2 separate regions of the Homo sapiens genome follow, and region 2 is linked to region 1. A link means that fine-mapping ties the variant in region 1 to the expression of a gene that starts in the linked region. Tissue or cell type: whole blood. Region 1 holds a variant in brackets; the other region holds the start of a gene. All regions are shown on one strand. Distances are from middle to middle.

What was found. PIP is the estimated chance that this variant, and not a neighbour inherited with it, causes the effect.
Region 2: it holds the start of ING5, and the variant in region 1 is fine-mapped to the expression of ING5 in whole blood (TOPMed, PIP above 0.99).

Annotation. Positions count from the first base shown.
Region 1 is chr2:241,549,188-241,554,404 of GRCh38, forward strand. All of the region lies in intron 1 of BOK-AS1 (BOK antisense RNA 1), which reads right to left. It overlaps LOC105373974 (a long non-coding RNA gene), which reads right to left and starts at 3,654. Exons shown (of 3, transcript XR_924069.3): 1 at 3,497-3,654; 2 at 744-871. It also overlaps a transcript of BOK not described here. RefSeq lists an enhancer at 2,278-3,088 and a silencer at 2,758-2,996. The variant C/T (reference allele first, on the strand shown) is at 2,056.
Region 2 is chr2:241,700,128-241,705,335 of GRCh38, forward strand. ING5 (inhibitor of growth family member 5) reads left to right here and starts at 1,912. Exons shown (of 8, transcript NM_032329.6): 1 at 1,912-1,975; 2 at 4,526-4,597. The coding sequence starts at 1,939. RefSeq lists silencers at 1,206-2,025, 1,768-1,931, 2,116-2,675 and enhancers at 1,330-2,162, 2,401-3,030.

The sequences.
Region 1 (5,217 bases):
CTGGGCACAATGACTCACACCTGTAATCCCAGCACTTTGGGAGGCTGAGGTGGGTGAATCACCTGAGGTCTGGATTTTGAGACCAGCCTGGACAACATGGTGAAACCCCATCTCTACTAAAAATACAAAAATTAGCTGGGTATGGTGGTGCACACCTGTAATCCAGCTACTTGGAGGCTGAGGCAGGAGAATTGCTTGAACTTGGGAGGCAGAGATTGCAGTGAGCTGAGATCGCGCCACTGCACTCCAGCCTGGGTTGCAGAGATCCCGTCTCAAAAAAAATAAAGATAAAAACAAAAAAAACACTTCAGTTCCTGAGTCCTGATATACGTCCTTTCCAAATACCACATAAAAGTAAAATGAGGCCAACATGAAACACCAAAACAACAAAACACCGAGAAGGTCAGGACAGAGCCTGGGCGAGCAGTGCCTGGTCTCGGGGCGGGGAAGCCCCGTTCAGGCCGAGGCTGCGGAGGATGGGTACATTTGACTCTGACAAAATGCGCAATCTCTGCACAGGAAGAGAAAGAGTTTGCAGTGAAAGTCTGGTGAGAAATATCTGTAGCATTTATAACCAACAAAAAAAAAATTCCCAGAGAAATGGGCAAATTCTCTACCTAGAGATCCCAAGAGTCCAATGAGCAACAGGGGGATGAAACACGCTTGGCCTTACAGGTGGCCTGGGATGTGCACAGTACAGCCACCTGGTGTCACCATTCATCTGCCGGATCAGCAATACTTACAGATTTTGTAATATCGGCCGGGTGCGGTGGCTCACGCCTGTAATCCCAGCACTTTGGGAGGCCGAGGCGGGTGGATCACGACGTCAAGAGATGGAGACCATCCTGGCCAACACGGTGAAACCCCGTCTCTACTAAAAATACAAAAAATTAGCCGGGCGCAGTGGCGGGCGTCTGTAATCCCAGCTACTCGGGAGGCTGAGGCAGGAGAATGGCATGAACCCGGGAGGCGGAGCTTGCAGTGAGCCGAGATAGCACCACTGCAGCCCAGCCTGGGTGAAAGAGCGAGACTCCGTCTCAAAAAAAAAAAAAAAAAAAAAAGATTTTGTAATATCAAGGGGTTGGCAGGTTGCTGCCAGAGGGGGTAGGTTCCAGCCGGGGCAGCTCTATCCACAGTGGAAGAGGATGTGGCTGGCCTGGCTGAGCCTGGACATGAGGCTGCATCAGGACCCCCTGGCCTGGCTGAAGCCCACTCTTCCAGACCCTGCCAGGGAGGGAAGGGGGTCGGTGCATGGGGGGTGCTAAAAGCAGGAGACTGTGGCCCCTGCTTGGCCTGTGGTCACTTGCCCTTGCCTGGCTGCCAGGCTAGTGGACAAACTCTCCAGCCGTGCGGGTTCCCGGCTGTTTACTTAGCACTCATCTGAGTTTATACAAAACCCTTCTGGTCCAAGCTCTGATCCTTCATTAGTAAGAGGAATGAGCTTCTGGGAAAAGTGAATGGGGAGGGGCTGTTTGCTCAGGGAGCCATCTGGGCAAATGGGGCAACAGGCCCACAGGCCTTGGCACAGAAAGTGTATGGTGCCCCCTTGGTCAGGTACATCCCATCTGATCATCTGTCACCACAGATCCCGGCATGAGCAGCAGACCAGGGGCGCGTCCCCCCTTCCAGATGGGGAAGGGGGTCCAGGCAGCTTGTGGGAGGAGAGCCTCCAGCCCAGGGAGCTCCTGTCCCTCTGTCTCTGCACCACACACCTCTCCCGAGGGGGCAACCCGGGTCACCTGCCCTGACAGCAGCTCTCACGGGACCTCGTTCAGCCCGTGCAAACTGTAGGGGTTATTGTGCAGTGCTGCGCCTCCTGGGGTGCAAACAGTCCCTGGCTTTCTGCCCATGGTGGGATGGGGTGCTTGCAGAAGCACCCAAGGGACCCTCCCTGGAACTGGCCCACTGCAGACTCTGCCCATCACCTCGAAGCCTCTCCTTGGAGGGTTCTGATCTGGAAACCAGGGCAATGACCTCATCCAGGGGCCTGGGCCAAGCCGAGAGGGTTTGCAAATTGATGCCCACTTAACCACTTTATTAGCTTCTGCTGCTGGT[C/T]CTCTTAAAACATCTCCAGGGCTTGAGGATGCTATAAATTTTTGGTCAAGGATCCTCTGGCAGCCTCACTATGCCAGCATCGGTCACATGGCCCAGCCCTAGACCTCCCAGAGAGAGGCCGGGGCCTGGGGGTGCCTTTTCTGGAGGCGCAGATCATACATTCCCTTCCTTCTAGAAGCAGCGTGAGGCTGCTTTTCTGTGACTCGGAACCAGCGCACCCCATCGCTCACTGCAGGTAGGAAGCATTTCGTTGCTTCATGAAGAAGTAGACATTCTGGGCCACGAGACAGAAGGGGAAGGAAGGACTCCGAGGTTTAGAATAAGCTGGTCTCACTGCCGCAGATGACTTGGGGGGACCCACTAAGGGGGTGGGGGGCACAATAGCAGCAGCCCCTGCTGTTGGCTGAGTCCACTCAGGGCTCACCACAGCCCATCTGCCTCCCAGGCACAGGGAAACCCCCCACGGGAGGTGGGGAGACCTCAGGGGGGTCCCTCCGCCCAGGAGGAAGGCTTGCGCTGGCCAAGTGAAAACACAGGAATCTCATTTTAGTTCTAGTGGGAAGGTTCGACCGCAGCGAGGGTGGGCTGGGATGGTGGAGGTGTCTTGCCGCCCACTTCCTGCCCTGCCCACCCAGTATTCACCTCGGCCACTTGAACCTGGAGTGGGGGTGACCCGTGGGGTGGGGTGGGGGGCGTTCTCTGAGGAAACGCCGGGTGGCAGAGTTTGAAGATGGGGGAAGAATGTTCCAGGAAGAAGGAAAGTAATCTTCGAGGAGCGGGAGAGGAGGCTGCAGAGGCAGGAGGGGCTCTGGTCTCACTGAGGGTGCTGGGGCTGTCCGGAAGGAGGTGGCGCGGCTGGGACGGGGTGGCAATGGCGAAGCAGCCAGGCAGCTGCTACCTCAGGAGCATTTTGAAAGGAGAACGAGAGGTGTGGCCCACCCACAAGCGGCTCCCTCCATGCAGCCTGGGTCACCCCATGCACAGGAACTGGCCAATGAGAATGTCCTGGCCCCACCAGAGACACCAGGCTCTGATCCAACTCAGAATGCGGGACTCCCTCAGAGCGCTGCAGCCTGTCTCTTGCACCCGCAGCACGCCCTGCACTCCAGAGGCTTCCTGCGAGCCGCTTGTGTTCGGCCCCACCCAGTCCCTCTGGCCTCTCCACGCCGCGCCATGCCGGTCCACACCCTGTCCGGCCCACTCATACCATCCACGCCCCTGCACATACTGACAGCTCAGTACCCCTTAGGGGCTGGGCTCAGAACAGACCCTCTAAAGAATGAGGCCGGAGTGGTAGGGCCAGGCAGGACCCACCTATGCCTGAGGCTGCCGCCGCTGCTGAACCCTCCGTTCCCCGCCCCCGTCTCCTGTGTCTCCTTCGTGTCTTTTTCCCTGCAAGTATGTACTTTCCCCTGCAATGCCAGCGCGTTCAGAAACTCACATTCCACTTTTAAACGCTGACACCCATGACAAGCTCTTCCTCAACGGCAAGCAGCAAGCCCAGCTTATAAAGGACAAGCGGTTCGGTCACCTTCCAGCCCATCAGGGATCACCACTGGGAAGAAGCCATGGCTCCGTGGGCCTTTGTGGGCAGGTACTGCCCTCCTCAGAGGCAGCCTGCAGTGACCGGGAGGTGACGGAGGGGTGCCAGCCTGGGGCACGTGCAGACACACACTACCCAGCAGAAAGATTCCGGGCGGCTCGCCACACAACCCTCTGCCTGGTTTTGCAAAAAAAGGACCATCTGAAGGCCACCGGGTAGTGGGTGGAGAGGCCAGTCCAGAGTGAGGTGGCCGGCACAAAGTCCAAGGACTCTGCTGCCACCGACCCCCGTGGCCTGCAGGCTGAACGCCCGCCCAGTCCCACCCACCCCCGGCATGGCATCCCCAGTGTACCTGAGACTGGGTTATTTATTTATTTATTCTGAGATGGAGTTTCACCCTTGTAGCCCAGGCTGCAGTGCAGTGGCACGATCTCAGCTCACTGCAACCTCCGCCTCCTGGGTTCAAGCAATTCTCCTGCCTCAGCCTCCGGAGCAGCTGGGATTACAGGTGCCCGCTACCACACCCAGCTAATTTTTTGTATTTTTAGTAGAGACGGGGTTTCACCATGTTGGCCAGGGTGGTCTCCAACTCCTGACTTCAGGTGATCCACCCGCCTCAGCCTCCCAAAGTGCTGGGATTACAGGTGTGAGCCACCGCATCCAGCCGAGACTGGGTAATTTATAAAGAAAAGAGATTTAATTGGCTCACGGTTCCACAGGCTGTACAGGAAGCATGGCTGGGAGGCCTCAGGAAACTTACAATCATGGCGGAGGGCGAAGAGGAAAGAGACGTGTCTTACGAGGCGGAAGGAGGAAGAGAGTGAAGCGGAAGGTGCCACACGCTTTTAAAGAGGCAGATCTCGTGAGAACTCACTCACTATCACGAGCACTGCAAATCAGCCCCCATCATCCAATCATCTCCCACCAGGCCCCTCCCCCAACACTGGGGTTTACAATTTGACGGGAGATTTGAGCTGGGACACAGATCCAAGCTGTATCACCCACACAACTCACTTCAGGGTCTAGCGTTGCCAAGGGCAACGGGGTAGAGTGGCCTCTACCCCAAGGGGTACCCCTCAGTGAGGGAAGTCACTGGAGACAGGGAGGGGGGCTCTGGAAGCCTTCCAAGACCGGCAGACCTCCCTCCCCACTCCATGCTAGGGGTAGAGTCTCAGATCTGCCTCAGACCCACTGGGCAAAGGAAATGGATGACAGATCTACTCACAGCATCTGAGATTTGCAGCCGGCCAGGGCAGGTGGCTGCACAGAGGAAGGTGCCCTGCTTCTGGGGGGCACCACACATTTGTCACCGTGGGAGGGAGGGCTCAGCTCAGTCTCCAAGGCGGCACAAGGCCACAGCAGCCTTCCAGGAGGACAACCAGGATGCTCCCGTTCTGTGCCGTCAGGGGCTGGCTCTGTATGGCAGGGCCTGAGCCAAGGAGGAGAGAGGACCAGGGTGGGGGAGGCAAGCAGCCGTCACATGAGAGATGAGATAGAGAGGAGCCATGAGGAGGTGAATGGCTAGGCTGGGAGAATCCCAAGCCTGAGGGCTGGCTTGAATTTGCAATGTTGAATGTGGGCATCACTGGGTTATGGACCCCTCTGCGCCCCACTCTGTG
Region 2 (5,208 bases), 150 kb after region 1:
ACCAGCCATTATGCCCGGCTAAGTTTTTTTTTTTTTTTTTTTTTTTTGGGACGGAGTGTTGCTCTGTCGCCCAGGCTGGAGTGCAATGGCACGATCTCGGCTCACCGCAAGCTCAGCCTCCCGGGTTCACGCCATTCTCCTGCCTCGGCCGCCCGAGTAGCTGGGATTACAGGCGCCCGCCACCATGCCCAGCTAATTTTTTTGTAGTTTTAGTAGAGATGGGGTTTCACCGTGTTAGGCAGGATGGTCTCAATCTCCTGACCTCGTGATCCTCCCGCCTTGGCCTCCCAAAGTGCTGGAATTACAGGAGTGAGCCACCGCGCCTGCCCTATTTTATTTTATTTTTGAGATGGAATCTTGCTCTGCTGGCCAGGCTGGAGTGCAGTGGTGCAATCTCGGCTCACTGCAACCTCCGCCTCCCAAGCTCAAGCGATTCTCCTGTTTCAGCCTCCCGAGTATCTGGGATTACAGGTACTTGCCACCATGCCCGGCTAGTTTTTGTATTATTATTATTTTGAGACGGAGTCTTGCTCTTGTCACCCAAGCTGCAGTGCAGTTACATGATCTCTTCTCACTGCAACCTCCCTCTCCCAAGTTCAAGTAATTTTCCTGCCTCAGTCTCCGAGTAGCTGGGAGTACAGGCGCCCGCCACCACGCCCGGGTAATTTTTGTATTTTTAGTAGAGACATGATTTCGCCACGTTGGCCAGGCTGGTCTCAAATTCCTGCCCTCAAGTGATCCGCCCGCCTCGGCCTCCCAAAGTGTTGGGATTACAGGCGTGAGCCACCGTGCCGAGTCTGAAACATATTTTAATTATGTTTCTCCAGTATTTTTTTTTTCTTAAAATTTTCTTTTTTTTTTTTGAAGACAGAGTCTTGCTCTGTCGCCCAGGCTGGAGTGCAGACGCGATCTCAGCTCACTACAACCTCCGCCTCCCGGGCTCAGCCTCCGGAGTAGCTGGGACTACAGGCGTGCGCCACCACGCTTGGCTAATTTTTTTTTTTTTTTGTATTTTTAGTAGAGTCGGGGTTTCAACACGTTGGCCAGGCTGGTCTCAAATTCCTGCCCTCAAGTGATCCGCCCGCCTCGGCCTCCCAAAGTGATGGGATTACAGGCGTGCGCCAGCGCGCCGGCCTTCTCCAGTATTTTTGCATGCATCTTACGGCACACCTTTGCACGCCATCTTATTAACTATATCATACTGCCGCACGTGCCTTTTCGGCCAAGGCATCCAGATGGTGCGGGTCCTGCCTGCCTCGAGAGGTGGCAGCAAAGGAGCCAGTGCCCTCACTGGTGCTGGGCGGGGCGGCCGCTTTCCTCGGAGGGAAGGGGCGGCGTTGGCGGGGGAAGGGCGCCAGGGCCCAGGCCCTGAGGGAGGGGCAGCTCGCCCGGGCCACGCGGTGCCGGCCCTCGGCTCAGGCCGGGCTGAGGCCCCGGGGGCTCGGGGTCCGGGGGAAAGGCGCTGAGCCAGACAGGTCCCAAGGAGCCTTCGGGAAGGGAGGGCCTCGTGGCGGCCTGTCCGGGACCCGGCCGGGAGCAGGGGTCGCGTGGGCGCCGTCAGGACGGGCGTGAGGTCCCCGGGACCACGTGTTTGCGTTTGGTGGCCCAGGGGTCGCTGACAGGTGCGGAGGGGAGACGCCCACCTGGGTGCCCTGGGCCGCACGCCGGGCGGTGGGGCCGGGAACCCCTGCTCCTCCTCGGCCTCCGATCCGCTGCGGCCCTGGGTCCTGCTCGCTGCCCGACGCCGCTGCCACAACCTCCGCCCGGGCCCCGCAGCCCGCCGCCCGCCGGAAGCTGAAAGGCGTGTCCGACCCCGCCCCCGGGCGCGACCAATCAGCGCGCGCGACTCATGAATAGTGAGCGCGCTGGCACCGCCCCGCCCCCGCCTCCCGCGGCACCGCCCGCCCGCGCAGACCCCGAGCGCGGCCGCGGACGAAGATGGCGACCGCCATGTACTTGGAGCACTATCTGGACAGTAAGCGCGCCCCACGGGCCCCGCGCCCGCCGCCCACGCGGAGTCCTCCGTGCCGCAGCCCCCCGCGCGCCGGGCACCGCATGCAGACCCCGTGGGCTCGGGAGGGCGGCGGGCGCGGCCGGGCGCGACGGGGGGCGCGCGGACGGGGCGGGGCAGGGCCGCAAGGGAGGGGAGGGCGCGGGGGGCGGGCGCGGGGGGTCCCGCCGGCTGGGTCGCGCCAATTCCAGGTGCGTCACGGCGGGGCGGGGCCTGGCGATGCTGGGCGGGGCTTGCGGCCTCGACCCCGCCCACATATTAGGTCCCGCCCCTACCCAGGCCCCGCCTCATCTCCGCCCCCAGCTCCGGCCCCGGCCCCGCCAGGTCCCGCCCGTCCCTGTCCCGTCTGCAGGAGGAGCTGGCGCCCGCTGCGGGGCTCCGGGCCTTGGGGGCTCCGGGGTCTGGGCCTCCGCCTGGCTGTGCGCCCGTGTGCGCCGGCCTCTTGTGTGACCGCGGCTGGGGAGGGCGTGCGGGCCGCGGGGCGTCTCTCCCCGGCACTGGGGACTGCGGCGCGGAGGCGGGGAGGGCGGTGCCGAGTCGGCCCTGGTGGGCGGGCTGTGCTGTTTCCAGGTGGCAGCAGGTCGGCGCCCCCAGCGGCTGAGCGGACGGTGCTTTCCCTCACTTTACACACCAGGGAAGGTCCAGCGCTGCCGAGCAGCCTGCTCAGGGTCTCCCGCTCGTAGAGGGGCAGACCCCACGCGGGACCCCTGACGTCGGCCCGGGATGGGCACAGCTTTGGGGTCGCGGTGTTTGGGGTTGTGCCGGGTGGCTCTGGAGGGCCCTTGTGGGGGCGCTGCACTGGGGATCCTCATGGTCTTCGGCCTGGCACCCGCCCAGGGGCTGAGACAGTGGCGAGTGAGCCGTGGCCTGGAGCTGGAGACCGCTGCCCTAGAGGGACGCCCGATTCTGCCCATGTGCTCCGCTGTCTCTTGGGGGTCTGAGTAGTGGGGGGTTCCCTGGGTAGAAGAGTCAAGCTGGGGAGCACGCTGGAGGGGAGGCCTTCTCTATCCTGGTGCCCAGCCAGTGGGCTGGCCTCCCAAGGAGGGTTGACTTTGTGTGTGTCTGGGAGGCTGTGCCAGCCGGGAGGCTGTGCCTCTGTCCTCTAGGGGAGCTGGGAAAACACTGGGGCTGGAAGCATCAGATGCATAAGATAGAGTTAGGTTTAAAATGATTGCCTGGTAACTGTGAACAGCAGATGGGAGGGTGGCCAAGACTGGAGGAGGCAGCCCCCCTTAGGAGCCTGTGTCAGCTGTGCAGGGGGCGGAGGTTGGCCTGGTCTAGGGGGTAACAAAGCAGACGCGAAAGCAGCACGGGGGTCCTCCTGGCAGACTGTGGGGAATGGTTGCGCTAGCCACAGGGACTATTTAAGTAAAATTAAAAATTGAATGGCGTTAGTCCCATTTCCAGTGCTCAGTAGCTCCCTATGGCCACCACTGTCTTGGGCAGCTCAGAGAGAACATTTCTTTTCTTTTTCTTTTTTTGATTTTTTTTGAAATGGAGTCTCACCCTGTTGCCCAGGTTGGAGGGTATGATCTCAGCACACTGCAACCTCCACCTCCCAGGTTCAAGCAATTCTCATGCCCTAGCCTCTCGAGTAGCTGGGACTGTAGCTGTGCACCACCACGCCTGGATAATTTTTGTATTTTTAGTAGAGACAGGGTTTCACCATGTTGGCCAGGCTGGTCTTGAACTCCTGACCTCAACTGATTTGCCTGTCTTGATCTCCCAAAGTGCTGGGATTACAGGTATGAGCCACCACGCCCATCCGAGAGAGGAAACATTTCTATCCTTGCATAAAGTCGCGTGGGCAGCGTGGCTACACTGCTCAATGCACTGGATTTCTGGGTAAAGTAGGGGAAGATCAAGGAGGACCCAGGGGATTTTGGCTTGAGCCTTGGAAGATGCTGCTCACTGAGGGGGGGCAGCCTAGAGGGTGGGGTCAGTTGGCCTCCCCTGCCTGTGCTGTTGGTTTCCAAGTTTCCCTCTCCCTTCTTTGACTTCTGACAGCTTCCGAAGTGTGCACACAGCCTCTTGTCAGCACTGTTTGGTACCTGCATCTAAAAATGAGATCACAGTCCTTCCGCTCCGCAAACCCTGACAGAGACAGAATACAGAGTGGGCTTGTAGACTTGAAGTATAAAACTTTTGGCCAGTCCTGGTGGCTCACACCTGTAATCCCAGCACTTTGAGAGGCCGAGGTGGGCGGATCACCTGAGGTCAGGAGTTCGAGACAAGCCTGGCCAACCTTGTGAAACCCCGTCTCAACTAAAAATACAAAAACTAGCCGGGCATGGTGGCATGTGCCTGTAATCCCAGCTACTCAGGAGGCGGAGGCGTGAGAATCACTTGAACCTGGGAGGTGTAGGTTGCAGTGAGCCAAGATCGCACCACTGCACTCCAGCCTGGGCAACAAGAGTGAAACTCCATCTCAAAAAAAAAAGACAGAAAACCTTTGGAGGTGAATTTTTGTCTTGCTGCTGAGAGGTACATGGCTTCTGTGTTTTTGCGTTTCAGGTATCGAGAACCTTCCCTGCGAACTTCAGAGGAACTTCCAGCTGATGCGAGAGCTGGACCAGAGGACGGAAGGTGGGTTCAGACCTCTCCATACAACCAGAACTGAGTTCTGACAGGTGGGAGCCAGCAGCTCCTGAAGGCTGGGGGCAGAGGGTTTTGAGGGGACCCAGGTTAGTGGGGCATTGGCCTAGCCCTGGGCCGTGGGTATCACTCAGTGTCTTGCAGTAGGTGTTGATACTTTTGAAGCCACATTGTTTCTTGGGTTCTTACACATCTTTATATCATGTTTTTATAACCATCACCCTTTCCAATCAAAATATTTATTGCCAATTTTTTCTTTTAAATATTTTCAATTTTCAAAGTGTGTAGTGCGTGCATTGTTTTAAAAGTTTGGTAGTACTTTTTGGCCGTTTGATATTTAACTCCGTTTCTTTTTTTTTGAGACGGAGTCTTGCTTTGTCGCCCAGTCCGGAGTGCAGTGACGTGATCTCAGCTCACTGCAAGCTCTGCCTCCTGGGTTCACACCATTCTCTTGCCTCAGCCTCCTGAGTAGCTGGGACTACAGGTGCCCGCCACCACGCCTGGCTAATTTTTTTTTTGTATTTTTAGTAGAGACGGGGTTTCACCGTGTTAGCCAGGATGGTCTTGATCTCCTCACCTCATGATCTGCCCGCCTCAGCCTC